Linked DNA regions of Homo sapiens: regions 1 and 3 are each linked to region 2. The links come from fine-mapping of genetic effects on gene expression. A gene starts in region 2. Each other region holds a variant in brackets. All regions are shown on one strand. Distances are from middle to middle.

Region 1 (10,776 bases), 98 kb before region 2:
GGAAGCTGCAATTAATTTTCTGGATAGAAATAAGCAGCTGAACTTTGGGAGCAAGCAGTTATTTTCCAAGAGAAGCTGGAAGTCTAAACCTTTCAGTTTTAAATGTTGATAATTAACAAAACAATTAAAAACAGTGCATGAGCCAAACCCAACATGTCCTGTGAGTCAGCATCAGCCTATGGCCTCCAGTTTGTGACCTTGGGGTAGATGCCCACTCAGGTCCGGTCAGGTCCTAATGCCCTGTGATTTATGATCAGGCACAACAAGTGACCACTGCCTGCCCATTCAATGTGATCAGAACTAATCTTCATTGAGGGCTTACTTTGTGCCAGACACTTAACAAGCATCAGCTCAACAAGCATCAGCTCATTTAATCATCACAATAGCCCTGTGATTCAGGAATGATTTTCAGCGTCACTCCACAGATGAGAAAACTGAGGCTCAAGGAGTTATGAGAACATACCCAAGGTCGTACAGCTGCGACGTGGAAGAGCACAGATGTGAACCTGGCATCATCCCATTCTCAGCCACCACGCCTGCCTGCCTTGCTTCCTCTGGGCTGACCATCAACTCACAAGGGACACTTCAGCACCACGCAGCCCACATAGCATCCAGGGAAATTCTGGGACTGACACTTAAGAGGAAGTCCCCAAATTCTTGTTCATTCTCCATTCAGGGCTGTGGCTCTCTCACCCCTCCTGTGCTGTCCTTTGGGGACACACCTGCAGTCTGCTGGCGGACGTGTGGCTGCTGGGTGGAATCTACCGCCGCTAAAGGTCTGGAAGAGATAGCGTTCTGCAGGATTCTTTCTGGTCTTCTCCCAGCCCCTCCTTGGCCAGGTGTTTTCTTGTGGGGAGCACAGGAAGGGGATGCTCTCCCTCCTCCCCGAGGCAGCGCTGGTGGCTGCAGCTGCAGCAGCTGTTCCTGGGTGGGCTGGCCAGCCAGCGTTCGGTGGGAGCCAAGAGCCCCTGCAGCCTGGGAATTCTGGGCTAATGCTCAGTCCTGGCATGGTCTCCTCTCTCACTGACCCCTCCAGTCCAGGTCACCACGACAGATGCTAGGAACATATGCCGTGAATTAATTCACTCCGGCACAGCCACAGAAGAACGGCTTCTTCCTCGTTCTGCTCCCACCACCCTTGCTTTCTGATTTCTGCCTTGCCAAAAGAAAAATCAACATTTTCCCCTTCCCTTGCTTCTAACACCCACTCCACTGGGCCTTCTCTTCAATATCCTGAGCCCGCTGACAAAGGCATTTGGCTCCTAGAGACTTCCTCACCCCCACATCCCAAGTAGGATCAAAGGGCCAAGAAGGAGCCAGATGTCCCCCTTTCCAGCTTTTTTGTCTCCAGATAGATCATGTCCCTGTTCCTGGAACTGATGAGTGCTCGTTTCCTTTTCTTAAAGAAAGGTTGTCTCTCCTTTAGGGGCCAGAATCTCCCCACCCTTCTAGTCTTTCCTTACATTTAACTCAAATCACTCCTGCTGCAATGAATTTCCTGGATAGAAACAAGCAGCTGAACTTTGAGAGCACGCAGGTTTGTTATTTCTCATCTTCATTCTCTCCTCTAAGGAGGGGTTGGCAACATTTTTCTGCAAAGCGGCAGATAGCTAATATTTTAGGCGTTGTAGGCCAGACGATCTCTGTCACAACTAAGTTCTGCCCCTTGTAGCATAAAGGCAGCCATCGACAAATGAGCTGTTGTAAACAAATGAGCACGTAAACAAATGAGCATGGCTGTGTTCCTGTAAAACTTTACAAGAACCAAGTGGCCTTCGCTCAAAGCAAATCAGCCCCACCTCTGTTATTTCTTGGTGGGCGAAGTATCCCTCTCTCTCTCCTCCCATCTGTATTTTGCAGATCATATGGGCTCCTTCACTCACACACTATTTATTTGCTAGCTTGTGAGTTTCTAGAGGTCAGGAGTGTGCTTTATTTGACTTTGAACTCCTGGAATAGGCATGCAGTTGGATAGAAATGCGATCAACACCTAGTCTTGGACTGGAAGAGCTTACAGGCTAGTGGGGAATACAGACAGATGAGGCCTATGTTCTCAAAGCAGAGATAAACTCAATGATAGGAAGAAGGCAGGGAGGGAGGAATCAGAAGAATATGCCTCCCACAAACTCAACAGCAGCCTTTGAAAAAATTAAGGACAGGAAACAAGAAAAAAGTACTTACTTAACCCTGATATCCTAAAGAACTGAGGCCCTGAAAAACAGTTTGGCAGTTTCTTAAAAGTTAAACGTAAACATACCATATGATCCAGCAATTTAATTCCTAGGAATCTACCTAGGTGGAATGAAAACATCTGTGCAGCCGGGCACAGTGCTCACACCTGTAATCCCAGCACTTTGTGGGGCCGAGGCAGGCGAATCACTTGAGCTCAGGAGTTCGAGACCAGCCTGGCCAACATGGTGAAACCCTGTCTCTACTGAAAATACAAAAATTAGCCGGGCATGGTGGCACACGCCTGTAATCCCAGCTACTCAGGACTGTCCAGAATCAGCAAACTGATGGGGCCGGAGAGCAGTTGCCCAAGGCTGGGGATGAAAGCAGGAATTAACTGTAAATGGACACAAGGGAATTCTGTAGGATGAGGAAAATGTTCTAGAACAGGATTATGGTGATGGCTGCAGAAACTCATATATTTCCTAAAAATCACTGAATTGTACAACTTCAATTGTGTACTCTTAATTTTACGGCACACAACTTTTATCTAAATAAAGCTGTTACAAATAACAAAACAAAACAAAACCTGGTGCCAAGCCATCTTTCCATCCATGGCTGAGAAGTGATTCATGAGGGGAGATGAAGGTGATACCCCCTAGCAAACTGCAGGCACTGTTGCCATAAACTGTCACTTTTCCTACGTTAACTTTTCAATCTTATCCAGTTCTCAAATCCAATAACAGCAGCTGGCTTTTACTGGGCGCCACAATCCCAAGAAGACAATATTAATATCATCCCATTTTCCAGATTAGAAAACAGGATCAGAAAGGGAAAGCAGCTTGCTCCAGGGCCCAGAGCTACAAGGCAGAGCTGGGACTGGAGCCCCATTCTGCCTGATTCTAGAACCTGTGCTCTTTGCCACTGTTATTTACTCCTATTCCCTCTACCTACCCTTTTCCCCATTGACTCTTTGACCTGAAGGAGAAAAGCATGGTGCTGCTTGGTCAAGCAAGGCAGAGTCTACGCTTCCACATCTCTCTGCAGTAAACAGCACTTTGCATGCAGGTCTCTGGCAGCAATGAGCCCAGAAGCGCCCTTACCTACTAAGCAGGAAGGCCTTGATTTGTGCCAGTAACACATTTTGATCAAGCAACACTGAACAGGTGGTGGCATGTTTCCAGTGAGAGCATGTAGTTATAAATGCCCATCTGGAGTGTCGTGGGGTTTAGCAAAGATGAACCACCAGTCAAGGATAGAGATGACCTAAGCTTCAGCTGCCGGCCTGCCTGGATGAATTTCTGGCTTGAGCTCTTCACTGGGAGCCGAGTTCCCAGGGAGCACTCCGTGCAGGGGCCTTATAGTGCCTCTCTGACTGTCTGGTGCAGTGGGCACACCCTCCTTCCTGGTGGGGAGCTGGCAGCAGCCTCCCAGCCTCTGGTCTCTGACAGACAGAGCTCATTGTTCTCTCCTGCAATGTAGCATCAATAGTTCTGCCTCTTCCAGGCCAAGGCATGAAGAGGCCATGCAGTAGTTTGAGGGAAGTTTTCCATAGTGTGCCTGTCAAGCCCAAGGAAGCCTGAGAATGCTGTCATCACAGGAGGGAGAGGACCCCAGACACCCAGAGGCCTTTCCTGTGACAAGCCGGGCCTTGGGCACAGCGAGCCAGAGAACCTTCTCTTTCGTTGTCACCCCCACCCCGGGCACCTTGACTTCCAGCCACTCCTCCAACAGGTCAGGCACATGCCTTCCTCCTGGTTTTTGCAAATACTGTTCCTGCTACTGAGAGCACTGTTCCCTGGGCACCAGTCTCACTCCTTCCTTCACCTTGTCAGTTGTGTGCCCAAATGCTCCCTTCTCAGGGAGGCCTCCCGATTGCCCTATTAAAAAATCACGACCCCCCTCCCCAGCACTCCCTTCCCTGTGCCGGCTTCATTTTTCTCTATAGTATCTCTTACCACTTGAGACACTATCTATTTTACTTTATTTGTCCATCTCCCCTTCCAGAATGTAAGCTCTATAAGGGAAGGGAGTTTTGCCTGTCTAGTTCTGTATCTGGAGTGTCTAGACCAGAGCCTGGCCTGAGGGAAGTGGCAATCAATTATTCCACAAAGTAATGAACTTCCCCATCACAGCCCGGCCTATGAACGGCATCTCTGCCGTGACCACCTAATGCCAAAGACACCAGGGGAGATTTTGTCAGAGACCAGCTGGGCTACCCAAGCCTGCTCAGAAGTGACTTGAGCCCGTCTAAGAGAAACTGGTAAGGAACTGGTTAACAAGCCATGTATTACTAGAAATGGCAGCACCAAGATTCTTCACTTCATGCTCCCCCACACCTGCACAAAACCATATTGCTGCTACCTGTGGATGCTTATTGATTCTGTCACTGCCCTCTTGGGCCATGTTCCTGAAAGGCTCTCTGAAGTCAAGTATATGACACCGTTGGATGTAACCTAAGGAAGGTATTTTCCATGTCAGATGAGAACTGGGCGGTCATAGATTCTGCAACATCCCATTCCTCTGGCACCCTGAAGCCATGATGAGCAAATGCTGGGTAAAGGAAGAAGCCCAGACAGGACATGATCAGGGCACAGGACAAGTGAAAGGAGACTCAGTCACATGTGGCCTGGACCTGATTTGGCTGAGCTCAGTTTGCTCAACGTAGAGCTGCTCCTACCCAGTCCCACTGCCCTGGGGCCAGGACTCTTGAGCTCACCTATGTTGCCAGGCTTCACACCAGGGGACTGACAGAAGCCCTCTGCTCTGTGGTCACTCCACAGACAAGAGTGGGGACGGGGAGGGGTGGTGGCAGTGGACTTCTTTCTCCCAGTGAACTTGTAAATTCTGTCTGCTATAAACTAGATTACTTTCCCAAGATGAAGGCAGCAGTGGGTAACAGAAACACAGGTGGTAAAGCGCTGTGGCATCAGAACTTGGAATTCCAGCTCTGCCACTCAGCTGGATAATCTTGGGCGATCTCTTAACCTCTCTGAGTCTGTTTCCTCATCTGTAAAATGGGATAACCACAGCATCTGCTTTACTGGGAGGCTGTGAGGATGAAATCTGATCATTCCTGTGTGCTGAACCCAGCACCTGGCATGCAGTGAGAGCTCCATGTTAGATCTTGTTGCTGCTGTTGTAAAATAAAGGGAGAAAGGAAGTCAGCCCCTAGCCACTTGCTCAGGCTGGCTGGAGACCTCCAAGGTTATCAGAGTCCTGAGGCAGTTGGATTTCCAGTAATTAAGGGAGTAGAAATACAGCCTTTCTCCTTTGGGTTTCAGACTGATGTAGACTCAAGCAAAACTAGCCTGGATGGAAACTTTTCAGTGGCCATGGGAATTATTCCAAAGAGGGGCTGCCTGGGCTAAAAGTGTGACTCTGGAAAAGGAGGAAATGGAACCCTAAAGCCACTAAATCCCCGAGTTTATAATTAACAGACAAGCATTCGCTCTGCCTGTTCTGGAGCCATGTGGCTCGCCGGGGAAGGGCACCGTAGTCACACAAAAATAACCCCCCAGTGGGTTTTTGATGTGTTGAGCCTCTTTGTTTTTCTGAATTTTAATGAAGGGCTTTCCAGGCAGGATAACAGAAGCACTCAGCGCTCCCTATGGCCGGGGAGTGGGCCTTAGTTAGCTGCTGCCAGCCTAACCCAAAGCCGCATCCAAGAGAAGCAGGCAGCGAAGGGGCTCTGTCCTCAGATAAGAAGTCTCAGGGAGGAAAAGAGAAAAACAAAAACAAAAGACAGCTCTGTTTAGGAGAAGGGTGGGACTCTGCTCCTGATCTCAGCACATCTTGGAACCAGGCGGTTATAATACTTGCAGCGGTGGAGATGGCTGCAACGTATCTAAAAGGATAAGGAGAAGGGAGGCCCAGGCTCTGTAAGAGAGGGCTTCCATGGAATTCTCAGGGCTGCTGGCTGGCCCCTTCCCATGAGAATCAGAAATGAGGCTCTGGGAACCTGTAGAAGCTTTTGGAGCTCAAGGCATGGA[C/T]TGCAGGAAGAGGGGAGAAAGGAGAATATTGTCACAACAGCCACCAAACCCTGATGCGAGTGAAGAATGAGTCTCCTTATCCCTCCCGCCGCCTCCTCCCTCCGCTGCAGCTGCCTGGAAGCCTATGATGCAGGTGGCAGTGCTGCGTCACTAAGGTCACAAAGGGCCCAGAGCACCCACGGGAAGGGAGGCCCCGCCCCAGAACCCCAGCAGGCAACTGTTTGAAACCTCCCGAGAAGTGAACAGCTTTCAGTAGGAGTGCCCACTCCTTCTCCGCCTGAATCGAACTCTCCCACATGCTCCGCAACAAGGCCGCGAGTTCTGAGTTCCTATCAGCTGGTTTAAAAGCTGTTCTCCTTCACTTGTGATACATTTTCCAAGAAGAGACTGGAAAGAAATGGAGGAGATGGCACAGAATAAGCAATTTATTGCAATTGAATTATCCAATGTGGTTGACTGAATATAAATATTTTTATTACAAAATATTCCAGGTAAAAATTCGGAGCTGCTTACAAGCTTCTTTAGCTTTAAGCTCATTGCATTTCTTCATGTCTAGAGCATGGGTGACGGGCTCAGGTGTGCCTGGCCTGCCCCGCAGGGTCCTCCTTCTCCGTCTGCAGTGGGTCCCACTCAGTGAGGACCTCTGAGGACACCTCAGTGAACAGATGGTCCCAGTCCCAGCCGACATCATCCTGCCAAGAAGGGTTTCGCTGGGTAAGACAAAGAAAGGCCTTTTCCCTCAACTGTAGCTGACTTCTCCCTCCCATCCAGGCCTCAGGGAGGCACAGGCCAGCCCGGGAGTCGGCTGGTTATGGGAATGCCAGAGCTGAGAGACCGGGGAATTGCTGCCACCACTGTACCTCCCGGACTTCGTGCTCCGGCGCGAGCACTTTGGTGAGGAGTTTCAGGTCGATCTCCCCATCCTGTGAATGCAAACAAAAAAAGGTCAGGCTGAGCACCTTGAGGGCTTTCAGGCAACTCTTTCTCACAAAACCGGGATCAGTTTTTGTGTGTCAGAACTTCCCAAACTGAGACCTGCAGGAATGCCTTCACAAGAGAGTAAAATCATGAATGAACCACATGCCCACTGAGAAATGAGGGAAGGCTATGCTTCCCACATGCTGGGCGTGCTTTGGGGCAAAGGACCATACCAGGAGGACCGAGTGTGACAGCAGTACAGCCACAGGGACAGAGGGGAGTGGGGTGCCATCAGGTGCCAAGTGGGCAGCCATGGAGGCAGGTGGGAGCCTGGCACTGAGAAACACTGTACTATGTTGGGTCCAGGGTTGCTGTGAGATGAATGATGATAAAACCTGCAGCAGAGGTATGGGTGCCAGGCAGGCAGCCTCAGGGGACTGGTGGAGGCGCTGTATAGCTTGGGAGGAACTGAGAAATCTCTACGGATTGAAGCCCATTGCTTGGAGCCCGCCTCTCTATGCAGAAGCTGTTCCACTCACCAGTGTCTGAATGGCTGAGTACTTCATGAGGTCATTGTCCAGGTCACGGTAGGTCATCACCCGCTTTATCTGGATGCTGAAGGAAAGAGAGAGCGAGAGGCGGGAACCCCAGGCAGGACCTGTTCCAGGAGTGCTGCCGGGCCACCGTCCCCAGAACCTTGTATACAGCAGGGGATGACCAGAATGGGAATAACAAAATGGGAACCCTGGATGGAGCCCAACACCAGAAAGATCCAGATTGACATCAAGGTCCACTATAGATGATATCTGGAGTGTATTAATTCACGTGTTCTTTGCCTCCCCAATCATATCTGATTTAACCTACCTGGGAGGGGCTGCCACCTGCAAAACAAAGTCTTCTTCCTGTACTTCCTCCAGATCCGGAATGATAGGAATATCTGCAAGGAGAGGCAGAGGCAACACTGTCTGCAGAACTCATAGGGATTGTGCCTGCTTCTCCACTTCTTACTCATTCCCCTTCAACACACCAGCCATGGGGCTGTGGGCTGGGGCAGGAAGGACACTCAGATACAAACTAGGGGTAGGATCAAAGGTGGAGTTTCAACGATGTCTGAATCCCAGGCCTCATTCCAGAACCTGCTGAGATAGAACCTCCTGGGTCACGCTCAAGCATCCAGATTTTTTTCCCAGGCGTTCCTTGGTGATTCTGACGCGTGCAACAGGTTAGAAGCCACTGCAGTGGATCTCCAAGGAGAAATGTAAAGAAATAAATGTAACAAAGGGCTTATTAGAGGAAAGAAGAGGAACTGACAAGTGAGCCTGGCATGGTCAGAGACAGAGGAACTGAGAACATGTAGTGTCACAAAGCGGATGCCGCAGTGAGTGCCACTCCTCATGACCCAGATCTCTATGTGCATTAGCCCCGCAGTGCAATCATCAGGGCCCTCAGCCTGCATCTCAAGGGCATCTTCCATCTAATGACATAGCCTGACTCCCTGGGATCCAGGCGTCCATTTGCCAGGTCTAATGTAATCAGGGATGCTGATTCTACAATCATGCTTTTCTTGCTGTCTCAAGATTTTCCATCTCTGAACTCTCCAGACAACATACGAGGAGACACGAGGCCATTTCTTCCACCAGTCCAACAAAATCATGCAAACAGAGAACTGGGAAACCAGTCCATCCCTTAATTGTGGCAACTTGCTTAAGTGACCAAAAATTGTCCATGTTCTCATGGGTCAACCTAACATCCTAAAGAAACATTTCCTTCTCCAAGTGAGTATCACTGACTGGTTGAGACATTTTGTTTTAAACGGTCAGGGGTGGGGGAGAAGGGAGGGATGGTGCAAGAAAAAAGGCCTGGTGGGGTGAGACAGTCCTGGAATTCCCAAAGCAACTGTAAACACGGAAAGAAGGAGAAATCCCAAAGGTAGACTGGTGAAGACATCTTTCATTTCTGCTTTCATGGACTGAATTCAATCTTAGTTTTCAAAGAGGTGCAAATCATTTCAACAACAGCTGAGAAGGCCCTTGCCACTTTCAGGCAATTCGTGATTTCGACTTTTGATCACTCTAGTCAAGTGACGCCAGAGGATGGAAATGTCAGTTCCAAGCCTGGTGTCTTTATTATGACTTCCGACTGTGGAGGCACAGATGTTGTACCTGGAAAAAGAGAGCATGCAAAGGAGAGACAGACACAGAGAAAATTCAACAGAAAGAGACAGGCAGAGAAAACAAGGGATAAAAAGAGTGAAAAGGGATAAAAATAGAAAGAAATTGCTGCTAGGGAAAATAAAGCAGAGACACATCCACCACCCCCCAAATAATGAACCACATTTAGCAAGTCTTATAGCTAGAAAGAAGCTGTTCAGAGCTTAGATTATATCTCTCTATCCTGCTAGAGAATTGGAGATGGAATGCTCTAAGATTCTATTTCTTATGCTAATAGAAATTTAGCTTTCTTTTTCCCTCTCGTTCTACGTGATTAATACAGTCCATTGTGCAGGCTGCTGAGAATGCCGTTCCCCAGGCTGGTAAGACTGCACAGGCCCTATGGAGGGACAGAGAGGAAGCTGGCTGTGCCACGCACCATCGGCAGTGTGACAGTTTTGGAGTGTGCCTGGCTCTCCTCGGGTGCAGAATCCAGCCTGAGATGAATATTCAGAAGTTGGTAAGAAAATGCACTGTGCTGAGTTTAGGGCTCAGGACAGGGTCTTCCCAAACTCCCCTTTCCCTCCACAACTTTAGCATTTGGGTCCTGTCAACTCTGCCCAGCGTCTTGGGGCTCTGAGGAATTGCACTTCTGCCCGATGTCCACTCTCACTCCCCACAGGCTTCCCTCTTCGTCCCCAACCCCCTCCTCCAAATGTGCACAAAGAGTGTGGGGCTGGCCCATCTGTGACAGATCAGAGGTCAGCTCGGGCCTTGGCAAAGGGGCTGCTCAGAGCGGCGCTGGTGGGGCTGGCCACACAGTGGGATTTCTCTCTAATTGGAAGCCTGGTGCCCAGCAGAACCCGGTGAACCGCCTGAGTGGGACAGAGCCAGCGATGACAGCCAGGCCAAGGCAAGCTGGAACATTCTTGTGCAGTGACAGCTTGAGCCATCGCAGCAGAGGCAGGCCATCCAACTCCGGCCCCCAGCAGAACAGGTGTCTGCAGAGCAGGTTTTGGGCAAACTTCAAAGAACTTCACAATTTTACAGTTTCTGATTTACAATCACAGGCAAGTGCTCATGAGCACATAATATGTTCTGGGGAATTTTTTTTTTCTTTTTATCTCCTTCCCCCCTCCCCACTCCCCCACTCTCACGTATACCATGAACGAACACAGAAAAAAGAAAATAGACTTAGGAAACTAGCTTCTTCACAAAATTACCTATGAGCAGTGATCCGGCCTGCCTCCAGTAAGAGACAGTGGCGACCTGCAAAGGTGGACTGGTGATGTAGCCTGATTCAGGTTGTAAAGTCTGACATGCAAAGCACACGATTTTAACAGAGACAATACAAGGAAGACAGGAGTCGGTTCTGGTACTTTTGAAAAGCAACCACCATTTTAAAAAATCCAAAAATTATGTTTATTTTATTTTCCTTTTCTTCAATGTTGCTAAAACGGAGAAGAACATGAACAGCTGCAATGAGGTCAGGGGCATGCCATGTAGAACTCCTTGCTCCATGGTTAAGAAGCAGGCTCTGGAGGAAG
Region 2 (10,776 bases):
GGTGCCCTTTAATAAAAGCAGCAAAGTGCTGTCCCAATATGCCTTTATTCACTAATTTATTGAATGAATGCTTGCACAGTGCTTTTCAGTTTATTAAAAAGCGTCTCAATGCGTATCTCACTTGCCCCCATATCAACCTGGTGGTATTACTATCACTATTTGACAGATAATGAAATGGAGAATTAGAGAGATTGGTGGACTTAATCACAATCCAGGCAATTAGCACCCAGTCCTCTGGTGCGAAGCCCTGTGTTCTTTCTGCTTCCTTCACCAGAGCTCCCAACTCCACTACCTCGCTTTAAAATAACCATGTGTTTGAACTAATTTCCACTTAAGTCTAAAGTAACTCCAGCATGTCTGACAGCTCCCAGGTACCATATTTACGTTTGCATGGATATCTTCATCCTAGAATACAGTCAGCAAGAGGACAAAAATAAATATATCAAGTAATAGAATCGGAATGTAAATGGGCACACACACAAGTCTTGGGATCTAATTTTAGAAAGAAACAGCCAAAAAGTCCCACACAGCACAGTGAGCATCTGGCCCCGTGGGAGGCTGCCCACACTGTTTAAACCTCAATTAGCCCAGGGAGAAAGGGATCCTGGAATCCTAACTGGCATCTTGCTTTCAGAGGCAACAGTTGGGTGAAGAGCAGAATGACTTTTCATCATGTTCTCCCACAAAAATGGTAATGCACAGAGTTAAAAAAAGGTAAACCTCGAAATAAGTAGGTATTACTGAATGGCTGAAACCCTGAAAGGATTCATCACACTCTGTGACTATGGAGTTATATTCTCACAGCAATGATTCTCACATGGGAGCCAAGGGAAGTGGATGGTAGGCAAGCAGGGCCCACTGACCCCAGCCTAGGAGCTGATTTGGTATGGGGGTCATATAAGGCTTCAAGGCCTAATGAGGTCATCACAGGCTCATTCACCTAACTACCATAGGTGGCTATAACCTCCTTCACAATTAAGTAGACTTTAAAATATATATACATACATACACACACACACACACACACACACACACACACACACACTCTTGTTAATATTTATATATATATATATAATATATACTCTTATTGTTAATTATATATTTATGTATATATCACTCTTGTTGCCCAGGCTGGAGTGCAATGGCAAGATCTCAGCTCACTGCAACCTCCGCCTCCCGGGTTCAAGCAATTTTCCTGCCTCAGCCTCCCAAGTAGCTGGGACTATAGGCACATGCCACCCAAACCCAGCTAATTTTTAAATATTTTGCAAAGACAAGGTTGCCCAGGCTGGTCGTGAACTCCTACGTTCAAACAATCCTCCTGCCTTGGCTTCCCAAAGTGCTGGGGTTACAGGGGTTACAAGCATCAGCCACTGTGCCTAGCCTTAAGTAGACTTTTAATTATTCTTCCTGGGTGCCAGTGATCACGAGAATGTAACTTCCATTATGGCAAGAGATCTTGTCTCTTTTGTTCACTGAAATATGCCAACCCTGCAAAATGGTGCCTGGCACTTACTGTGTGCTTCAATAAATAGTTGTTGAGTAAATGAATGAATGATCTGGTGTTGGAATTAATCCTCCTGGACCCATGTGGAACAGTGTAAAGTGCCAGAGGCCAAGAATTGGCTTCCATCAGCTCAGTCATTTGCTTCCGCGTTTTCTCTTTAAATACATACACCACTGCAGTTCAAGCTCCCTGAGATCCAGGGTTGGGTCTGGTATATCTTCTTTCACCAAATTCCTACTTTATATCACCTCTCCTAACTGTGCCTCCAATGCTCCACTATCCTCGCCTCCCAACCTCCCTGCCCCAGGCCCCATAACACTTCTACATAGCTTCTAATGTGTAAGTACATCACACACTATGTACTTGACCCCACCTCATCCTGCGCAATAACAATTGCAGGCCTATTCTGCCAGGCACTGTGACAGATAATAGGGTACGATGATAAGACACAACCTCTGCCTTCCAGATGCTCATATCTTATGAGAGAACCAGATATGTAAACAATTAGAATACAATGTAATAAGTATCACAATGGAGGTGCCATGGCCGCAGTTACAAACTGACAATCCTTGGACCAAATCCAGCCCATATGATGATTTAATATCCAGTCCATATGGTGATTAGGTTTTCTTAATCAGGTGCTAACCTCTAAAAATGTGTTGCTTTCACATAAAATTTTAGACTGCCAGCATCTCTTGAAGAATCATATCTGGCAATACTGGGCCTGTATTCTCGACAGCACCAACCAGCTTTGGCTAAGTAGTGGTTGTCCCTTTAGAGGGGGCATGTGGCCTCCAGTTCCCAGTCCCCCTGCCCTAACTCACTCCCCTAGTTTCTTCCAGGCAGTGATGCCAAGGGGTCAGCTGCTAGTTTTTCTAGGCCAGCACAGATGTTATCTTAAAGTAATGATTCTCCATACCCACACTTCTAAAAGGAGAAAATGAAAGATAAATGGACAAGGCCATGTGGAGAGCTTAAGAAAGTGGTGGAGAATGCATTTCCTACGAAAATGAAGAATATTCCTACCTATGTGATATGTAAGTGAAGTGTGTCCATGTCAGGTACCCGGTTCATTTGCTCATGCACCTGCCTGACCCATTAGGCTTCTCAGCATGGGTCTCTTCATCTGTTGCAAACCTACTATGGGCCAGCAAGCTAGAAGCCAGGTTTCCTGCTGTCTGGGAACTCACTGTCCGGTGGGGGAGACAGACATGTAAAAAGACAATTCACATATAATGGCATATGTTCACAATAGGTACTATGGGAAGTGAAAGGAAGGACTGCTAAGTCAGCCTGGAGAGGTTAGAGAAGAGCTAACTTCTGGCAGAGGATGACCCTGAGGCTGACTTTTGCAAAGTTTTTTCAAATGGACAGAGGAAGGTAAAAAGGGGCTCTGAGTAAGCTGCCAAAAGTAGTGCCCTGGCAGTAAAAAGTATTGCTCATCAGAATTACCCACCCTCCACAAAGAAGCTGGATCATTTCCCATAATTCCAGGCTACTCGGAAAAGTTTCCAGGAAAGTAAGGCCAGTAAATGATCTGCTTCCTGCCGGAAGACTGTAGAAAGCGCAGGTCACCACCGAGAGCAATGTCCAATTGTGTAATCCAACCTTACGTCACCAGTCTGCCTCACTGGCATTTATTCAGCGGAAATAAAAACCTGGAATCCTACTGGATTTTGAAACTTCCCAGTCCCTTGCTTCAGCTAACATAAAAAGTTCTACATTAAGAATATAAGGAAATGCACAGAAACTAGTCTGGCATCAAGGAAAAAAAGTTCTTCCATTTCCTGCTACAAGGACAAATGCCAAGGAAGGGAATTCCCAAATCAAGACAGGAGAAAGGGTTGGCATTCAAGAGAAGAAATATGGAATACCAAATCCTTGGTCATTAAGGAATCACTAACTCTTAAACAGTATTTCTTCAGATTTTCTTTTTTTTTAGCACCCACCTCTCCAGTCAGAGTCAAAGAGGAATTCTTGCCATTGAGGTGATTCTCGGCCTGCGCTGACTCCTGTTGAGCTCGGCGACCCATCTTGGCCCTCTGTAAGGAGAAACAGAAGGCACTGCTGACCCAAATGTCATTTGGGCCACTACTGAGATGACAATCCAGCCGGGCGCAGTGGCTCACAGCTGCAATCCCAGCACTTTGGGAGGACGAGGCAGGCAGATCACAAGGTCAGGAGATCCAGACCATCCTGGCTAACACGGTGAAACCCCGTCTCTACTAAAAACACAAAAGATTAGCCTGGCGTTGTGGCGGGCGCCTGTAGTCCCAGCTATTTGGGAGGCTGAGGCGGGAGAATCGCTTGAACCTGGGAGGCGGAGGTTGCAGTGAGCCGAAATTGTGCCACTGCACTCCAGCCTGGGTGACAGAGCAAGACTCCATCTCAAAACAAAACAAAAAAAAAGATGACAAGCCTGGGAAGGTAAGCAAGGACTGGATTTATGATGATGTGGTGGAGAACGGGATTTGAGTTACTTGGACATGTTTTTAGAAAACCCTCTAAAACCCCTTAAAACAAAGCACCTGAGGTCAGTTCTATTTGATAGGAAAATAGGAAATTAAGACAGGTTCTCACTCTGTTGCCCAGGCTGGAGTGCTCACCGCAGCCTCCACCCCCTAGGCTCAAGTGATCCTCCTACCTTGCCCTCCTGAGTAGCTGGGACCACAGGTACACACCACCATATCTGGATACTTTATTTTATTTTTTTGTAGATATGGGGTCCCCCTGTGCTGCCCAGGCTGGACAAGGTTTTCTTTCAACAGCTATAGAGATGGCAAAAGAAAATTCTATTTTCTACCCAAAGAAATGCAGTTACAAATTCCTCTAGAATGGGCAGATACCTCATGCCACAGGTCAGAGAAGAAGGTGGTAAATGCTCCCATGTTCCTACGCAGGATTTTAGGAAGGCTTAATTTCAAATCTGCAGCTTGGCATGAAAATCATTATCAAACAGGCTTTTGGAAAGAATTCCTAAATTCCATGGTAAATGGAAAACAGCATTTGCTCTGATATGTACAGTAACTGGGTTTGCCTTTACAGACATTAAGGGAAATCTAGTACAAGAATTTTGAGACATTATCTTTGGAAATCAGAGCACTTCAAAATTCTTGGCCATCAAATGAATCATTTGCAGGTGTTTCCCAAGGCCCTCCGGTGGAGACTCTGCCTCTAAGGCTTCCCAGCACATAAACAAAACTTTATTTAGTCAGACTCTTGGGTGCTGAAATATTTATACTTTTGCTTACTTTGTTTAAAAAAAACAGCATTAATATAAGCACTTTTAGATCTCATTTAATGTGGCTTCCTTTGATTCTCACAATAATGGACAGAAACTGAGACTGCTGTCATTTTACAAAGGAGGAAACTGAGGCCTAGGAAGGTGATGAAGTGGCTGACATAAACCTAGGAGCAAAGCCTTCTGATTTCAGATCCTGGGTTTCCTGGGTGCTTTCCACTCTACCCTGCTGAAACTTGTTTTAAGATGTTCTAAGGACTGACTGCCCCACTAAACTGAGAGGGGTTACAGAAGAGCTCGTAAAAACTCTTATGCAATGTCGACACTTCAAATTGTAGTGTCATTTAGGTTTCAGGGATGGTGGAAACAATCTTTCTGATAATAAGCAGCTTATTTTCTTCTCAAGTCAGACAATTCCATCCCTTCACCATGGTTGCCCTTTTCCATTTGTCACAGCACTGAGTATCTGAATACAGCATCCTACATATGGCGGTTGTGCTAAAACAAAAATTCAATGATCTTGTCGCTAAATGCTGTTCACAGGTGTTTTCTCTAATAATTTTTAAGTATTTCAAGGTTTTAAACTTTTTGAAGACCCTGTATAGATCCATAGGGTAGAAAAACTTCTTTACTGCCTGATTTTTGTGTATGTTAAATGTAGTCTATTTATTGCCCATCTTCTCCCACTACAACATAATCACATGAGGGCAGGAACTTTGCTTTATTCATTGCTGTATCTCCAGCACCTAGGACACTGCCTGATACACAGTAGGGGCTCAATAAATATTTGTTGAATGAATGAATAACTACATTCACATCCCCAGGTACTAAAAAACATTCACGTATCAGCAGGCCTGGTGACCTTCAAAACACTTAGAGATTTCACAGCAGACACTAAAGACTTGCTCTGGGGCCCAATCTTTTAGTAAGTGCGATCCTAACCAGTTTTAAAGATAAAAAGGCCTGATGGGGGTTACAAAGGAGGAAGGTAGACACTGAACTTGGGTCTTGAATCTAGCTCCATTATTTACTAACTATAACGCTGGGTAAACCACAGCCTCATAGGCAGCAGTAGCTAACCTCTTCTGACCTCTTCCGTGATAACATATGCCAAGCACTGAGTTACACGCTTCCCATGTATTGTTGCATTTCCTTTTCACTGTAACACCTCCATTCTAGGCATAAGGAAACCAAGGCTCGGAAAGGTTAAATCGTTTTTTAGGTTTTTTTTTTTTTTTTGAACCCAGGCAACAGCTCTATGCTCCATCTGGCCTCAGTGCCTGAGCACCTAATCACTCCCTCACGTTACAAATCGGTCTTGGTTTCCTTAACTACTGAGGTAACTGAGGTTAACTCCCACCTCCCCACGGGGATTACCGGGAAGAAAGGCCGTCCCTGCCTGCCTCCCTTCCATGCATAAAACAGTGCGGCTTTTGCAGGAACTTCTGCGACGAGGTGTCCCAAAGGAAAAACTCTAGGATGGGAGCGAGTGCGACCCCGGCCGGGGCTCCCCTATCACCCTGTGATCGATCTGTTCTGGGGAAGTTCGCACTCGGGGCTCTAGAAAACGGAGAAAGGCTCGGAAATTTCCCACGGTCCTAGACGCCGGCGGGGACAGGGTGTTTTCTACTTTCTGAGGATTTTAAAGAAAGCAAACCCCAGGCCAGCAGCGGCGGAGCCCACAGTGGCCTGGGGGCGGGGCGGTGAGGCTGCCTCCTTCTGGGCCTCACCCGGCGCGGCGCGAGGCCTGCCGCCCTGAGTCGCCTCAGAGAAGTCGGGGCCGGCGGGGTCGCTCCTCCCCACCCGCCAAATCCTGGCCCCCAAGGCCCCCGAATTGGTCCTCACGGAGGTAGCCAAGCTGTAGCGAAGCTCCTCGTCCAAGTCGAGCAAATCCTCCATCTCCGCGGCCGCCTGACGTCACTTCCTGGAAACCGACTGGCCCAGACGCGTCCCTGCTAACAGCCCCGCCCCTCCACCCCAATTTTTAAAGGGTACGCAGCATGGTTCCTGGATTCTGTGTGCCATCCTCCAAACTACCGAATCTTTCTTAAATCTGCCTTGCTTGACATCTGGAAGCAACCTCCGGTTATTAAAACTCGCCAACGCTGCTCCTGCGAGACGGTAAAATAATTTGGTCGTTAGGAACTGTCTGTATTTGTAGCTCTGTTTAAATATATCAATATATTAAGTGCAAAGCACTACTACTGCTATACTGATGCCTCCCACTTGTACAGCTCTTTGCAAGGTACAGAAGGCCGTCACAGTTATTGGCTTAACGTGAGGGGCATTAACAACCTTGTGTGGGAAGCAAGATAAGTGGTATTGTTTCCATTTGACAGATGAGAAAACAGGGAATCAGGTGTAATAAATGGTTTACCATGAATTATGGAAACTGCAATATACATAATCTCTGCCTTCAAGAAGTTTACAGAGAGGCTGAATCAACACATCAAATAGCTGAGTAGTAATAACTTTCAAAAGTACAAATATTCAATATCTCATTAAATCCCAATAATCCCGCAAAGTGAGTAGCAGTAGTATCTCTAACACAACAATAAAGCACACTGAGGTACAAAGAAGGGGCTTGAGGAAAATCACCTAAGTGCCAAGCAGCAGAGCCAAATGCCCTTCTGACACCAGACATTACTGGAGTATTTATCTCCAGCACATACTACTGGGTGCCAGCCATTCTCCTAGGCTGGCAGAGGGAGATGTACCACAAATTCCCAGCCTAATGGGGCATTTAAGTTGCGTCTTTGTTGACTCTTCATATGAGATCTCCAAGTCAATATCACTGGCCAGGTCCCTGACACTGGTTGGCTGAGATCCATAGGAGATGGGCTGATAGCCCTGAAAGCAAACAACATTCCAGTATTATGTTGAGGGGAAGGCCTGGATGGACACAGGTTAAAAGCAAGGATTCGGAAGTGGGAGTAGCACCCCTGAAACCTCATTGCAAGCATTTCTTAAATATCCAGTAAATCACTCAGTTCAGTCACACATGTTACTGGATAGGACTGTGTGTTAGCATGCCTGTGACAGCAAGAGCACTGGCCTGGATATCAGAAGAGCTGTGTTCTCATCTTAGCTCTCCTGAAAACTACCTGTGTAGTCAGAGCAGAGCCCTTTCCGCTATCAGTTTCCTCCCTTGTAATTACTTTAGAGATTATCTCTAAGATCCTTTGTTAACTTGCTTCTCAGTGAGAATACTTTGTTAGATTTTAATCTGAAGAAACACTCATTGCCAAAAATCCAAGACAGATGAAATATAGGCTCCAATGAATCCCTTGTTCCCTTCTTCTTCGGCACCAGATGAGGAAGAAGGGATTAATCTTTGGATTTTTCCATTTCTTGTAAGCTCACAGCATACGACCATCACCTTATAGTCAGTTTCCAGACCTTCACCCCCACTTCTTCCCCAACTTGCTGAAAACAGAAGGCAAATGGTCCTCACTCTGGGCAGAGAGGTACCCTGCAGTAGTAGCTTCCAGAACTTGCTTAGCACCTGAATCACGTGTGAGGTTTGTAAAGAAACAGAGATGCCAGGGCCTCAGCTCTGGAGACTGATTTGGTAGAGGTGGAGTCCAAAAAAGTATAACTTTAATAATTTTCCTTCCTATCTTGCAACTGTCTGCTCAAAGGCCTTCCCTTATCACCCTATTTGAAACTGCAACATCCCCCAACCTAGGCACACCCCATCCTCCTTCCCTGCTTGATTTTCTGCCACACCACATTTGTTTGTTTGCTTGTCTGTTTGAGACACGGTCTTGCTCTGTCGTCCAGGCTGGAGTGCAGTGGTGCAATCTTGGCCCCCTGTAAACTCTGCCTCCCTGGCTCAAGTGATTATCCTGCCTCAGCCTCCCAAGTAGATGCCTGCGCCAACATGCCGGGCTAATTTTTCCATTTTTTTGTAGAGACTGGGTTTCGCCGTGTTGCTGGGGCTGGTCTCGAATTCCTGAGCTCAAGTAATCCTCCTGCATGGGCCTCCCCAAATGCTGGGATTACAGGCGTGAGCCACTGCACCTGGCTCAGCACTTTTTACCGTACTACATCATTTACATATTTATTTAGTTTATCGCCTCCTCCACTGCCCCACCCCTGCCTCTAAAATAAAATTTCCCTGAGGGCAGGAGTTTTGTTTCGTTCACTGATATTCTTCACAGAGCCTAGAATAGTGCCTGGTATATAGTAAACATTAAACTTTTTCTGAAATTTCAGAGGCAGTATAGCATAGTAATTAAGTCCAGAATCTGGCAACGTCCTGGGTCCAAATCCCAACAGCTGACACCTAATAACTATGTGACCTTGGGCAAGTTACTTTTAAAGTTTCTACCCCTAGGTTTCCCATTGGTTTTGCAAATGAAAGTAATGCCTACCCAAGCTAGATAGCCTGTGTAAAATATCGCCTCCATCACTCACAAGCAGTGTGGTCTGTAAAAAAAAAAACAAAAAACTCTATGCCTCAGTTTCCTCATCCGTAAAGTGACCCACCGCTGTGCTGGGATACAGAGAACAGCCCCTTCAGTTAGTGGCCTGGAAGCCAGACCTCTCAGAAAGGGTCCAGGAAGGCTGGAGTGAGATGGGGTGGGAGCGGCACTCACTCTCAGGAAAGTTCAGTTCAGAGGCAAGCCCTGTGTTGCGGGGTGCGGGGAGCCACGTGCCCTACCCTCCCTTGGCTGCTCGTGGGAAAAGGCCTAGAGGTTCGGGCCGAGAAGAGGAGCGAAAGCACAGAGCCGACTTCCCCTCACCCATCTGGGAAATGGGCTCGGGCCAACTGCTGACTTCGCGCTCGCTGGCGCAGCTCCCTGCGGAGACCTCGGCGGGGAGGGAGGCTGAACATCTGGATGACATTTCTGCGAGAGCGGCTCCGGAGCGGCGGTCGGGGAGGGAGAGGTGCGCTCGTGCGCACGTCGGGCCGGGAGGGAGGCGATTCCTCGGGGCCTGGGTCTTGTTTTTCTCGCTCTCTACCGCAGCCCCTTCTCCCGCCCCTCAGCCCCCACCCCGCAGCCCCCAGCCCCCGAGCCTCCCCGGCTCCCGACCAGCCGAGCTCCTTCACTGGCGGCCTCGCCTCGCCAGAGGGCACCCTCGATCTTCCGGAAAACGCCACCATTTTTCACTGCCCCTGGAGCGTCTCCAGGCTTCTGCCCGCCTCCCGACTCCGATCTTGTCAATGAAGAATCGGGCCAGGATCGCCGCGGAGCGGACGCCGACCCTCCGACCCGGCTCGCAGGCTGGGAGTCCCCTCTGCGAGGCTGGCATGGCCGCCCCTACCGGGTCCCGCGCCCTCTGCGGACCCTGCCCCGGGTTGGGCCTGGCCCGCGGGCGGCCCCGGGACCGGGGGACCAGGAGGGAGAGTAGACGCGGGCCGCGGACGGCGCGGACTGACAGCTGGCGAGAGGGCGCCGGGGCTGGGGGAAAGGGAGGGAGGGGGCTCATCGGAGTAACTTTCCAGAAAAACAGCCAACGTGTGGCAGGAGTGATTCCAAGAGGGGAAAAAAAGTTCAGCTACCACGTCGAACGAGAGGACTCGCAAAGTATTTTTCAAAAGGGCTCGGCTTTTCCTGTGCCTGTTTAAAACATTAACATCGTGCAGCAAAAGAGGCTGCGTGCGCTGGTCCCTCCCTCCCCCACCCCAGGCCAGAGACGTCATGGGAGGGAGGTATAAAATTTCAGCAGAGAGAAATAGAGAAAGCAGTGTGTGTGCATGTGTGTGTGTGTGAGAGAGAGAGGGAGAGGAGCGAGAGGGAGAGGGAGAGGGAGAGAGAGAAAGGGAGGGAAGCAGAGAGTCAAGTCCAAGGGAATGAGCGAGAGAGGCAGAGACAGGGGAAGAGGCGTGCGAGAGAAGGAATAACAGCTTTCCGGAGCAGGCGTGCCGTGAACTGGCTTCTATTTTATTTTATTTTTTTCTCCTTTTTATTTTTTAAAGAGAAGCAGGGGACAGAAGCAATGGCCGAGGCAGAAGACAAGCCGAGGTGCTGGTGACCCTGGGCGTCTGAGTGGATGATTGGGGCTGCTGCGCTCAGAGGCC
Region 3 (10,776 bases), 48 kb before region 2:
TCACGCCACCTCACTCCAGCCTGGGTGACAGAGTGAGACCCTTTTGTAAAAAAGAAAAGAAGCTCTTCTACTCTGTACTGAGATTCAGAAAGATCAGCAAGAAATATTGTTAGAGATTTTTTTAAAAGTGCAGAATGCATATGTTCCCATTTGTGTCTGTAGGTGGGTGAGGAGAATATATTAACCTGCATAGAGTACCTTTGGAGAGAAACACGAAAAAAACTGGTTAAAAGTGGTTGCCTCCAGGAGAGGAAACTGGGTGCCTGAGAAAGTCAGGAAGGGAGAGAGAGACTCAGGTTTCATATCCCACTCTTTCATATCTTTTGAATTCTATACTATGTTTCTTTTTTATTTAAAAATAAATAAATAAAATTCACCAGTAGTTCTAATGTCTCAAAAGAAGACACGATGTTATACAAAGACTAAAATCTAAAAATGTATACTGTCTCCACATCCCACTCCCTTTCTCTCTTCCAGCCCTCTTGAAATGATCCACCTTTCTCAACTTAGTTACATTTGAGCTTTAAGGTCAAAGACACTTCACTCCACAAAAAGGCAGGCCAGGCACAATGATTCACACCTGTAATCCCAGCACTTTTGGGAGACCAAGGCAGGAGGATTGCGTGAGATCAGGAATTCAAAACCAGCCTCAGTGACATAGCAAGACTTCATCTCTACAAAAAATTTAAAAACGTGGCGAGTATGGTGGCACACGCCTGTAGTCTCAACTACGCAGGAGTACCTGTAGTCCCAGCTACTGAGGAGGCTGAGGCCGGAGGACAGCTTGAGCTCAGGAGTTTGAGATTACAGTGAACTATGATCACATCCCCACCCTCCAACCTGGGCAACAGAATGAGACCCTGTCTAAAAAAAGAAAAAAAAAAAAATGCAACATACCATTACAAAAAGGGGTTGTGTCTAACATTAGACCTGCGTGCCTGTGCTGGACAAGGGTCCACAGAATGAACAAATGCTTACTTTTACATCTGTGCCCATGAACAGTGACTTTCAGGAAGTACCCACCTCACTGTACACATTTCAGGGGCTAAGTAGGAAAGGACACCAGGCCCAAATGCGACCACCAGTTAGAGCGAGGTCTAACTATCAGTTTAACAGGGAACAGGCTCCACAGATGAGCTGTTCCACCATGACCCATCCATTATTCTCATTCCTCCCCACCCGCCAGCTACCAGAACAAATGAAATCTACCAAAATAATACAAATGTGTGAAGATAGGAAAGGACTAAAGATAGCATGAGTGTGACACATCTCACACTTTTCCCTACTTCAATGGGGATAATTATTTTTCCCTAGTTATTTCGATGTACACAGTCTGGGGGGCTATTCATCTTCAAATCTTGCTGAACATCTATGATTTCCTATAATAAACAATGCAACTGAATCCCAATTTTTCAAAATAACTGTGGATTCTCTAAGTTCATGAAAATAAAAACTTATCTAGCTCTTCCTCTATCATCTTTCTGTCCAGGCTCTGAGAGCAAAGCAAAAAATTACACTTTGGGGAGCCTACCTAGAATAAACAAATCTAAGATGTACATTAAAAAGATATGATGTCACATGGTCCTAAAGCCATCCTTTCTAAACTGACCATATCTTGGAAGGCACGTGAAAGAAAAGCATCTATGCAGGGCAAAATGCATGACGGTGAAATTGAGACAGAGATCCAAGCAGAGAGTTCACACGAGCATCTCCAAAAACCACAGAAATAGAGACATAGCCTCTAAACTCTAGGCACAGCCACTGGAAATGCGAGCACAATTAGCTTCCTAAGACCTTCCCTTCTCAACCATCTCACATGCAACAGCCCCATCTGATTTTACCCAATATTGGACACTCATTTCTGGTACCTGACTGACAGTTAAGAACCCACGTTGCCCAGGACTCCGGTCATGCCATACTGATTCCGGGTTCTTTGCGGCTAAGGGTAGCAAGGGAAAAATCAATTCTCAATACTTCTAATTTTGTTTTGTGTTTCTTGAAAACCAAATGAGCAAAATTGTGTTTACCAATGAAAATCTGAAGGTCAAGGATTAAGTCCTTTTACTTTACTGGAAATCAGAGCTGCCTCGTCCTACCAGGGACACCCTTTTCAATTATTAGAGCTCTGTAAGAAATGCCCCAAATTTACTCATTGATCAAATATGTATGGAGCACCTATGTGTTCCAAGCCCTACAGACCCAGATGCAAACAAAATAGACAAATATCTCTTGCATAGTAACCACTCGCTTGTTACTATTAATAGTAATGCAAAGGCAAAGGCAGCTGCAGCTCTTAATCAGTTCAATAAAATTAAAAAAAAAAAAACAGAGAATGAGGGAAAAGCCACATTTAGGCAAATATTAACAACTGGTTGTTCAAGGTAAAAGTGTGCATGGGTGTTTGCTGTACTAATACTGCAACTTTTCTATAGGTTTGAAATTTTTTAAAATAAAAATACTAAGAGAAAAAGGTAGGGTTACAAGTATAAAATGTATTTCAAGCAGCCAAGTAGCTGGTAAGAGTTCATTACAGAAGAATTTCTGTTAATAAATGGAAATTAGACAGTCATCACTTGACAACCTTTAATGAAATCATGGCTCTAGCAACTATGAGCAATGGATGCTACAACCATGAGAGGGGAGTCTGATGGGCGCTATAAAGTGGAGACTCACACAGCCCTGCCCCCACTGGTCAATCACAGGCTGAAAGTGGAATGACCGGACACCTGTGCCTTCTCATACCTGTGCCTTCAAGGCAATACAGTGGGATGTACACGGCATCACCTACAAAGTATTCCTGCCAAAACTGGGCCTAAATGGAACTCCCAGTTAGAGCTACACCTAACTATCAGTTTAACAGGGAATATGAGGGACAGAGAAACAAGTTAAACACCATGACTAGGAAGCAACAGACCACATCCAGAATGTGGGAAATTCTACAGGACAAGTTTCTTTAAAAAAGGAAATCATCATGGCCACCTGGGCAACACAGCAAGACCTTGTCTCTCCAAAAAATTTTTAAACATTTAGCCAGGCATGGTGGCGTGCACCTGTCCTAGCTAATCGGGAGGCTGGGGCAGGAGTATCACTTGAGCCTAGGAGTTCAAGGTTGCAGTGAGCTATGATCGTGCCACTGCACTCTAGCCTGAGCAACAGAGCAAGATCCTGTTTCTAAAAAAGAAGGAGGGAGGGAGGGACAGAGGGAGGGAAGGAAGGAAGGGAGGGAGGAAGAGAAGATCAATGGCATTGGGAAAACATAGGGGGGTGGTGATTGTTGCAGAATAAAATAGAGACTATAGAAATATAACAACTAGGCCAGGCATGGTGGCTCACGCCTGTAATCCCAGCACTTTGGGAGGCCGAGACAGGAGGATCACCTGAGGTCAGGAGTTCAAGACCAGCTTGGCCAGCATGGCAAAACCTTGTCTCTACTAAAAATACAAAAATAAGCCAGGTGTGGTGGCGCGCGCCTGTAGTTTCAGCTACTTGGGAGGCTGAGGTGGGAGAATTGCTTGAACCTGGGTGGCGGAGACTCAGTGAGCCGAGATCACACCACTGCATTATAGGCTGGGCAAGAGAGTGAGACTCCACCAAAAAAAAAAAAAAAAAGAAAGACAGAAAGAACGAAAGAACAAAAGAACAAACGAACGAACAAACAAACAAAAAAAAGGAAGGAAGGAAAGAAGGAAGGAAGGAAGGAAGGAAATGGCTAAATACAATATATGGACCTTGATTTGTTCTGTTTACAATCCACCTATAAAACACATTTTTGAGACAATGGAAGTAACTCAATATGACCTGGATATCAGATGACATTAAGGAATTATTAATTTTGATATGCATCCTAATGTCATGATGGTTAACAAACAAAAACAGTCCTTATCAATTAATAAAAATTATCTCCAGCAGCAGCAGGAAAGGTATGAGGAAGGGAATCAATTGCATTATTTATTATTTATATATCGTCAAGCTTTTCTACTCATCCTTGGCCTCATATAGGATAAAGCGTGTTCACATCCATAGGTATATCTTCTTGAGACTAAATAACTGTGTGCCCTTATATATGTCTGACATAGTACTTCCCTGTCTTTTTCAAGACATGAAGCAATTAAAAATAACACACAAATGGGTGGACAGATGAGACTTCTCATGGCCACAGGTGACCAGCCTAGGGGCCTTGGCTAGGTCTACCCCACAGGCAGGGTGTGCCCACATCATGGCACACTGGCACCCACAGTGCAGCACATGGCACACCAGCTGGGCAGCTCCAGCTAACCTTCCCTCTGTGACACCTTTCTGGGAAATTGACTTCTATGGGGATGGACAGCCTATAACAGAGCCGGTTTAAAAGGACAGAACGTATGTTTGCAACTGTGCTTACAGATCTAGGAGCCCTCTGGCTCCATGAGTTTTTGCTTTTCACACTTTTTAGCCTAATAGGAATCAACTACTTGCTGCTAAAGGGAAGCAAAAAGATTCTGGTATGGCAATGACATAAAGGGAGAGGACAGAAGCCCTTTAGTATCCTTGGAACATCAATGCCATTAAAAAAGAGAGAGAGAGAAAGAGAGAAGGAGGAGGGAAGGGGGATAACCTCGGGACCAGCACACAGCAGTTCTACCGCCATCTTAATGTCCTTGATGCGTGCAGATGGTGTGGAAGTGGCTGGCACCAGAACAGCCCATGAGAAGGAATGAGCAGCCAATGGAGATTTATGTGAGGAGAGTGAGATGGACAAGGTAAAATTGTCAGGAGGAGTTGTTAGAAAGTAAAATATATTGTGACAATTCCACTCCTGCCGTTCATCAATAAACTGACAGATCATTTAGTGTCAATTAGGAGTGATAGATGGACAAGTCCCCATGATCCTGGGCCAAAATTAATGGCTGGGAGGGAGAGGGTGATTGAAAATGACGGCTGACATTGAGAGCAAAGTCCTGAAAGTCCCTGAGGGGCCATTACTTGCCTCATTCCCTTGCAGATCAATGCAGGGACAAACCCAAAAACAGACACTTTGAGACAAAACTTAATCAAACTACCTTTCCTTCCTCTCTTTACCAAGTTGGCTTTCTCTCTTCAGCTCTATTCCCCATGGCGAAGTCAGTGACCCACCATAAGTGTCCTACCTCGGGCAACTTCAGAGCCAAGGACAGCTCCAAGATGGAATCTCTGGCATAGCTATGACTCTGACGCCAAGGGGAAGGGACTGGTAGTGATCCCAGGCCCCAGGCAATTCCTGAACTTGGCCCTTTCTGTGGCTCAAGGATGAGCAATGGAGCCCTGGCACCCAACATATCTAGCCAGTGAGGTGGCTGACACATGTTCTGTTCTCTATCCTGGGCAGTGTTATGCAAATAAAGCCAAGGTATCCCAGAAACTCATATTCCTTAGCTATGAGCTCCTCAATCAGATTCATAAACAGCCCTTCTACTTCTCACTGGTGACACTTTCCTCCTACCTTCTTTGCACAGGGATACCTAGCTTATTGAACAGAATCTACCCAACAGAGTTGGTGTAATGCACATATAAGGTGCTGCTACGGACTGAATATTTGTGTCTCCCCAAAATTCTTATGTTGAAATCCTAATCCCCAATGGGATGGTGGTTGGAGGTGGGACTTTCAGAGCTGATTAGGTTTAGATGAGATTATGAGGGTGGAGCCCTCATGATGGGGACAAGGAAGAGACATAAAATCTCACTCCTTACATGCACATACCAAGAAAAGACACTTAAGGACGTAACTAGGAAAATGGTCCTCACCAAGAACCCAACCACAATGGCACCCTGATCTCAGATTTCCAGCCTCCAGAATCATGAGAAATAAAGGTTTGTTGTTTAAACCTCCCCATATACGGTAACTTGTTATAGCAGCCAAATTAAGACAAGTATCTAGCACAATGCCATTGTTATTATCACCCAAAAAGAATTTAAGGTGAATACGCTATTTTCCGGGGTCAATTCTCTGCTGTAACTAGACTGACAATAAAGTTACTATCACTCTCACAACACCAGATCTTAAACCAAAATGCCTTCTTCATGATCCTGTTCTGACCATCA[A/G]AATTCATCCAGCTTGACTCCTATCTCCGCTATAAGACACTCCCTGACCATAATGATTACTCTCTCTTCTGATATCCCATCACCAGTGTTACTCATTCATTTGTTCCTCACTTACTATGTGCACCTTCTGCCAATATGCTCCTTTTGCCATTCCTGATTTTTGTGGATGAAAATGTCTCCTAAATTAGAATTTGAGCTCTTGCGGGACAGGAAGTATATCTTCCACTCTGGTACTCACTAGAGTATCCAGCAAATGGTAGGAGCTCATGTTTCCAACCTTAATGAGGTAGGTCCTCAAAGCTCGAAAGTTGCCTCTCTTACCCCTCATCAGCCTCTTTTTCTGTTTTAAATCTGCTCTACTTGACTTCAAGATGCCACTCTCCTTTGCCTCAACAATCTCAACAGTCAGTCTGTCTTCCCACTTTGAAGAATGGAAAAAAAAAGAAGCCAAACCAAAAGGAAATTCTCTAAAGTCCCCATTCCCCTCAACCCTCCTCAATAACTTACCCAGCCTTTCCAAGCTCCGTCTGTTTTGGAGGAAAACTATCCGCCCTACTTCCTCCTGTCCAAGGTCAATCAATCTCTCCTGGAAGGTCTTATTCTATCCCTCCAGTATCCTGCTACATCAGTTAACCCCCTACTTCATTTCTAATTACTCTTTCCTCGAATATTGCAGACATGATTCTTAATCTAGACTCTTCTTCCAAATACTGTTCCATCCCTTTCCTTTTTTCATAGTATCCTATATTACTGGCCACTTCCTCATGTCCCACTTCCTCTTCAGTCTACTGCAATCTGGCTGGGGCTCCAATGCAAATGACTGTAACCACTTTCTCAAAGGCCCCTTGTAACCTCCAAATAGCCAAATCCAATGATCTGTCCTTGTCTTCTCCTACTTTTGTAGATGACTCAAAGTGCATCTCTTTTTTGACCTCACTTTTAGACTCTTGAGCTATGGAAATTACCCACATGTCCCACCATCAGCTCCTAAATCAGGTCCCTCCTGCCTTCCCTCTCTTATAGCACCATGACCCAACCAGACACCTAAGTGGGGCTCCTTGCAGTGACCTTCAACTCCTCCCTCTGCCGCACATCCAACCACTGGTATTTCTATTAACTCTACCTCCAAAATGTCTCCACATCATCTTTCCTTTCCATCCTCACAACATGGCCCTGGTTTAGGCTCTTATCCCAACAGGTCTTCCAGCCTTTCAGCTCTCCACCTTCCACACCGAAAGTAAAGTGACCGTTTAAAAATACTGATCTGATCATTCATATGTTCAATAAATAGTCACCGAGTGCTTATTATGGACTAGGCACTGTGCAGGAGACTGGGGGTATGTAAATAAGAGAGTGTGTCTCCTCTCATAGAGCTTACATTGCAGCAGATAGAAAAAGAGAATATGTATGCATGCATGTGGATATGTCAGGTGGCAGTAAATAAAGCAGGCAATGGGGACCACAGAGCGATGAGGGGTGCTACTTTATGTAAAGTGAGGTAAGGTAGGACCTTGTAAGCCATGGTAAGGACTTTGGGTTTTACTTTGACTGGTTGGCATGCTACTGCAGGGTTCTGAGTATACAAGTAAAAGGTTTGCACTGATGTTTTAAAAGAGTCACTCTGGTTATGCAGAGATAACACAGAGGGAGCCTCGTCAGGAAGTTCTCACTTGAGCCAGTGCAAGAAATGATGGTGGCTGCAGCCAGGTGCTGGCAGTTCAGACAACAGATGTATTTCAACAGTAGACCTAACAGGGTTTGCTGGCAGACTGAATAGGGTGATATAAAGAGAGGAGGCCAGGATAATTCCAAAGTTTACAATCTGAGCAATTAGGAAGATAAGAGTCACCACTTACCGAGATCTAGGGATGACTTTGGAGGCACGATTAGGGGAGGGGGTAGAAGGGGTTGAAATTAGAAGACTAATTTGGATGTGTCAGGTTTGTGTTGCATATTCCAGTTGAAAACATCAAGCAGGCAAATGGCTGTCCAGGAGGAGAACTGGGCTGGAAATATAAACATAAATTCTGGAGTCATCACTGCGTAGACGATAGTCAAACCTGAGACTGGGTTGAGATCATGCAGAAAGTGAGTGTTGACAGAGAAGAGAGAAGGTTAGAGGAAGAGCCCTGGGCACTCCAACATTTCGAGGGGTCAGAACCAGGCCACAGACTGAAAAGCCAAGCAAGTGAATACCTCAGAAAGTAACAGGTGACAAGGAAAAGCTTCTTTCTCCAAGAGGAAATGGATTTGATCTGGAAAAATCTTTAATATTTTCACTGAGGAATGAATACTTGTGATAATCTTTTGTTCTCTAAGAAGCAGACAGGATTTGTCTTATTTTCTTATTTCAAAATAAATTCCAGATATGACAAGTACTAAAATCCCCTAATAATTTAGGAAAACAAAGCTCCTCCATAAGATTCACATTAGTAGATGAGACCTGCATTTCTGCGTCACCTTCTTGTTTTCGCTTAACACTAAAAATGATTGTTATGGTCTATAAGTAAAACAGCATGCTACATAATAGCCTAGGAATAGAGACACCACTGGCACAGAATAACGCATCCAAAAGCAGACTCGGGTAAGTACAAAGATTTAGAATACGATAAAGGTGGCTTCTCAAATCACTAGAGAAAGATGGATTTTTAAATAAGTGGTGCTGGGACAATAGCCATTTAGAAAAAAGTAAAACCATACACCAAAATAAATTCCACGTGGATCAGCAATCTCAATTTTTAAAATGAAAGGGTGTGGCTGTATTCCAATAAAACTTTATAAAAATAGGCAGCTGGCCTGTGGGCCATAGTTCACTGACACCTAGGATATAGAAACAAAGGAGGAGAAATATAAAAACTTATATATACATATATAATTTATATATGTATATTATATAAATTATATAATTTTTATGTATGTATATATAATTATATATATATACACATATGTTTACTTTTCCAAAAAGAAGTATAGGAAAGATAAACCAGAAACTAATAAAGAAACTGCCTATATGGGATGGACGGGAATGAGGTGGAGAGGATGATAAGGATGGGAGTGAGACATCACTGAATACATCTTTCTATACAATTTTAACTATTGATTGGTGTAAATGTTCTACATATTCAAAAGTAAATTGAATAAAAAGGATTTTTAAAAACCTTAAAATTGAACACAGACAGAAACAAGTGAATGTAATTGTGTATTAAATTGATATCTTAACCTGTATGAGAAATAATTCAAATAACTTCCGAAAACAGTATCCTGAACCTTAGTGTGATATATTCTAAGGACAAAAAGAACCACAAAGAAATCTTGAGTTTTACTTAGGAAGTTTGTTTTTGATAATGACATTAGTATAGTAACTGTAAAACTACTTTATGTGTGTTACAGGATAGAGCGTATTTTTTAAAATGTGTTTCCTAGTTCTACCTACTAAAAGAGCCTAGAAGCAAAGATATCCAATAGCAATGGGCAGTGTGTATATAGACCGTGAATTCTATAACTATTCTCCACCAAAAGGACCCAGGAGTCCTTGGAGAAGTAGCTGACTCCTGGACTAAACATGGAAAATACAAATTTATTCTGGAATATCTTGCTGCGTTGAAAAGCAAGCACGTACTCTAATACTAATAAAGCACAAAAGCATAAGAGCCATCTCAAAGTTCTCCCTGGCCAAACATGGGACAATCTGAGCACTAATAATCATTAGTATTATAGAAAAAAAAACTGTGATGATGGAAATGAATTATAACACAATGAACAATACAAATCCATGAGTCCAGCTGGGTGCAATAGTTCATGGCTATAATCTCAGCACTTGGGGAGGCCAAAGTAGGACGATTGCCAGGAGTTTGAGACCAGCCTCAGCAACACAGTGAGACCACAGCTCTACAAAAATAAGAATTTAAAAAAATTAGCCAGGCATTGTGGTGCATGCCTGCAGTCCTAGCTACTGGGGAGGCTGAAGCAGGAGAATCACTTGAGCCCAGGAGTCTGGGTTACAGTGAACTATGATTGCACCACTGCACTCCAGCCTGGGCAACAGAGAAAGATCCTGTCTCAAATAAAATAAAATAAAATAAAATAAAATAAAATAAAATAAAATAAAAATAAAAATAAAAAAAGTACAAAAATAGGCACAGAGGCCAATGGAACAGAACAGAATATCTAGAACTAGAACAGCATACCTTCAACCAACCAATCTGTGGCAAAGTCAACAAAAATAAGCAACAGGGAAAGGACATCCTATTCAATAAATGGTGCTGGGAAAACTAGCTAACCATATGTAAAAGAATGAAACTGGACCCCTTCCTATCACTATATAAGAAAAATTAACTCAAGATGGATCAACGACTTAAATGTAAGATCTCGAACTATAAAAATCCTAGAAGAAAGCCTAGGAAATATCCTTCTGGATGTCAGCTTTGGCAAAGAATTTATAACCAAGTCCTCAAAAGCAACTGTGACAAAAGGAAAAATTGACAAGTGGGATCTAATTAAATTAACAAGCTTCTGCACAGCAAGAGAAACTATCAACAGGGTAAACAAATAACCTAAGAATGGGAGAAAATTTTTGCAAACTATGCATCTGACAAAGGACTAATATCCAAAATCTATAAGGAAGTTAAACAAATCAACAAGAAAAAAATAACCCCATTAAAAAGTGGGCAAAGGCCATGAACAGACACTTCTCAAAAGAAGACATACAAGCAGCCAACA

Which allele goes with the higher level. Positions count from the first base shown, and alleles are read on the strand shown. Sizes are in standard deviations (SD) of each study's normalised expression. Not every link is listed here.
With allele G in place of A in region 3, the expression in testis of the gene that starts at base 6,671 in region 2 is higher (small effect, 0.16 SD a copy in GTEx).

The links.
Region 1: its variant is fine-mapped to the expression of IFT43 in nasal epithelium (TOPMed, PIP 0.99).
Region 3: its variant is fine-mapped to the expression of IFT43 in testis (GTEx, PIP 0.98).

The regions. Positions count from the first base shown.
Region 1 is chr14:76,079,535-76,090,310 of GRCh38, reverse strand. IFT43 (intraflagellar transport 43) reads right to left here. Exons shown (of 9, transcript NM_001102564.3): 6 at 7,944-8,016; 7 at 7,619-7,694; 8 at 7,022-7,084; 9 at 6,569-6,853. The coding sequence ends at 6,734. It overlaps LOC105370573 (a long non-coding RNA gene), which reads left to right and starts at 9,658. Exons shown (of 2, transcript XR_007064270.1): 1 at 9,658-9,749; 2 at 10,090-10,776. RefSeq lists an enhancer at 5,441-6,427. The variant C/T (reference allele first, on the strand shown) is at 6,162.
Region 2 is chr14:75,981,658-75,992,433 of GRCh38, reverse strand. It overlaps IFT43 (intraflagellar transport 43), which reads right to left and starts at 6,671. Exons shown (of 9, transcript NM_001102564.3): 1 at 6,594-6,671; 2 at 3,457-3,549. The coding sequence starts at 6,647. TGFB3 (transforming growth factor beta 3) reads left to right here and starts at 10,439. Exons shown (of 7, transcript NM_003239.5): 1 at 10,439-10,776. RefSeq lists silencers at 6,381-6,690, 9,645-9,764, 9,895-10,134 and enhancers at 6,517-7,018, 9,805-9,864.
Region 3 is chr14:76,029,242-76,040,017 of GRCh38, reverse strand. All of the region lies in intron 3 of IFT43 (intraflagellar transport 43), which reads right to left. Among named protein-coding and RNA genes, the nearest start is that of IFT43, 49 kb to the right of the region's middle. The variant A/G (reference allele first, on the strand shown) is at 6,058.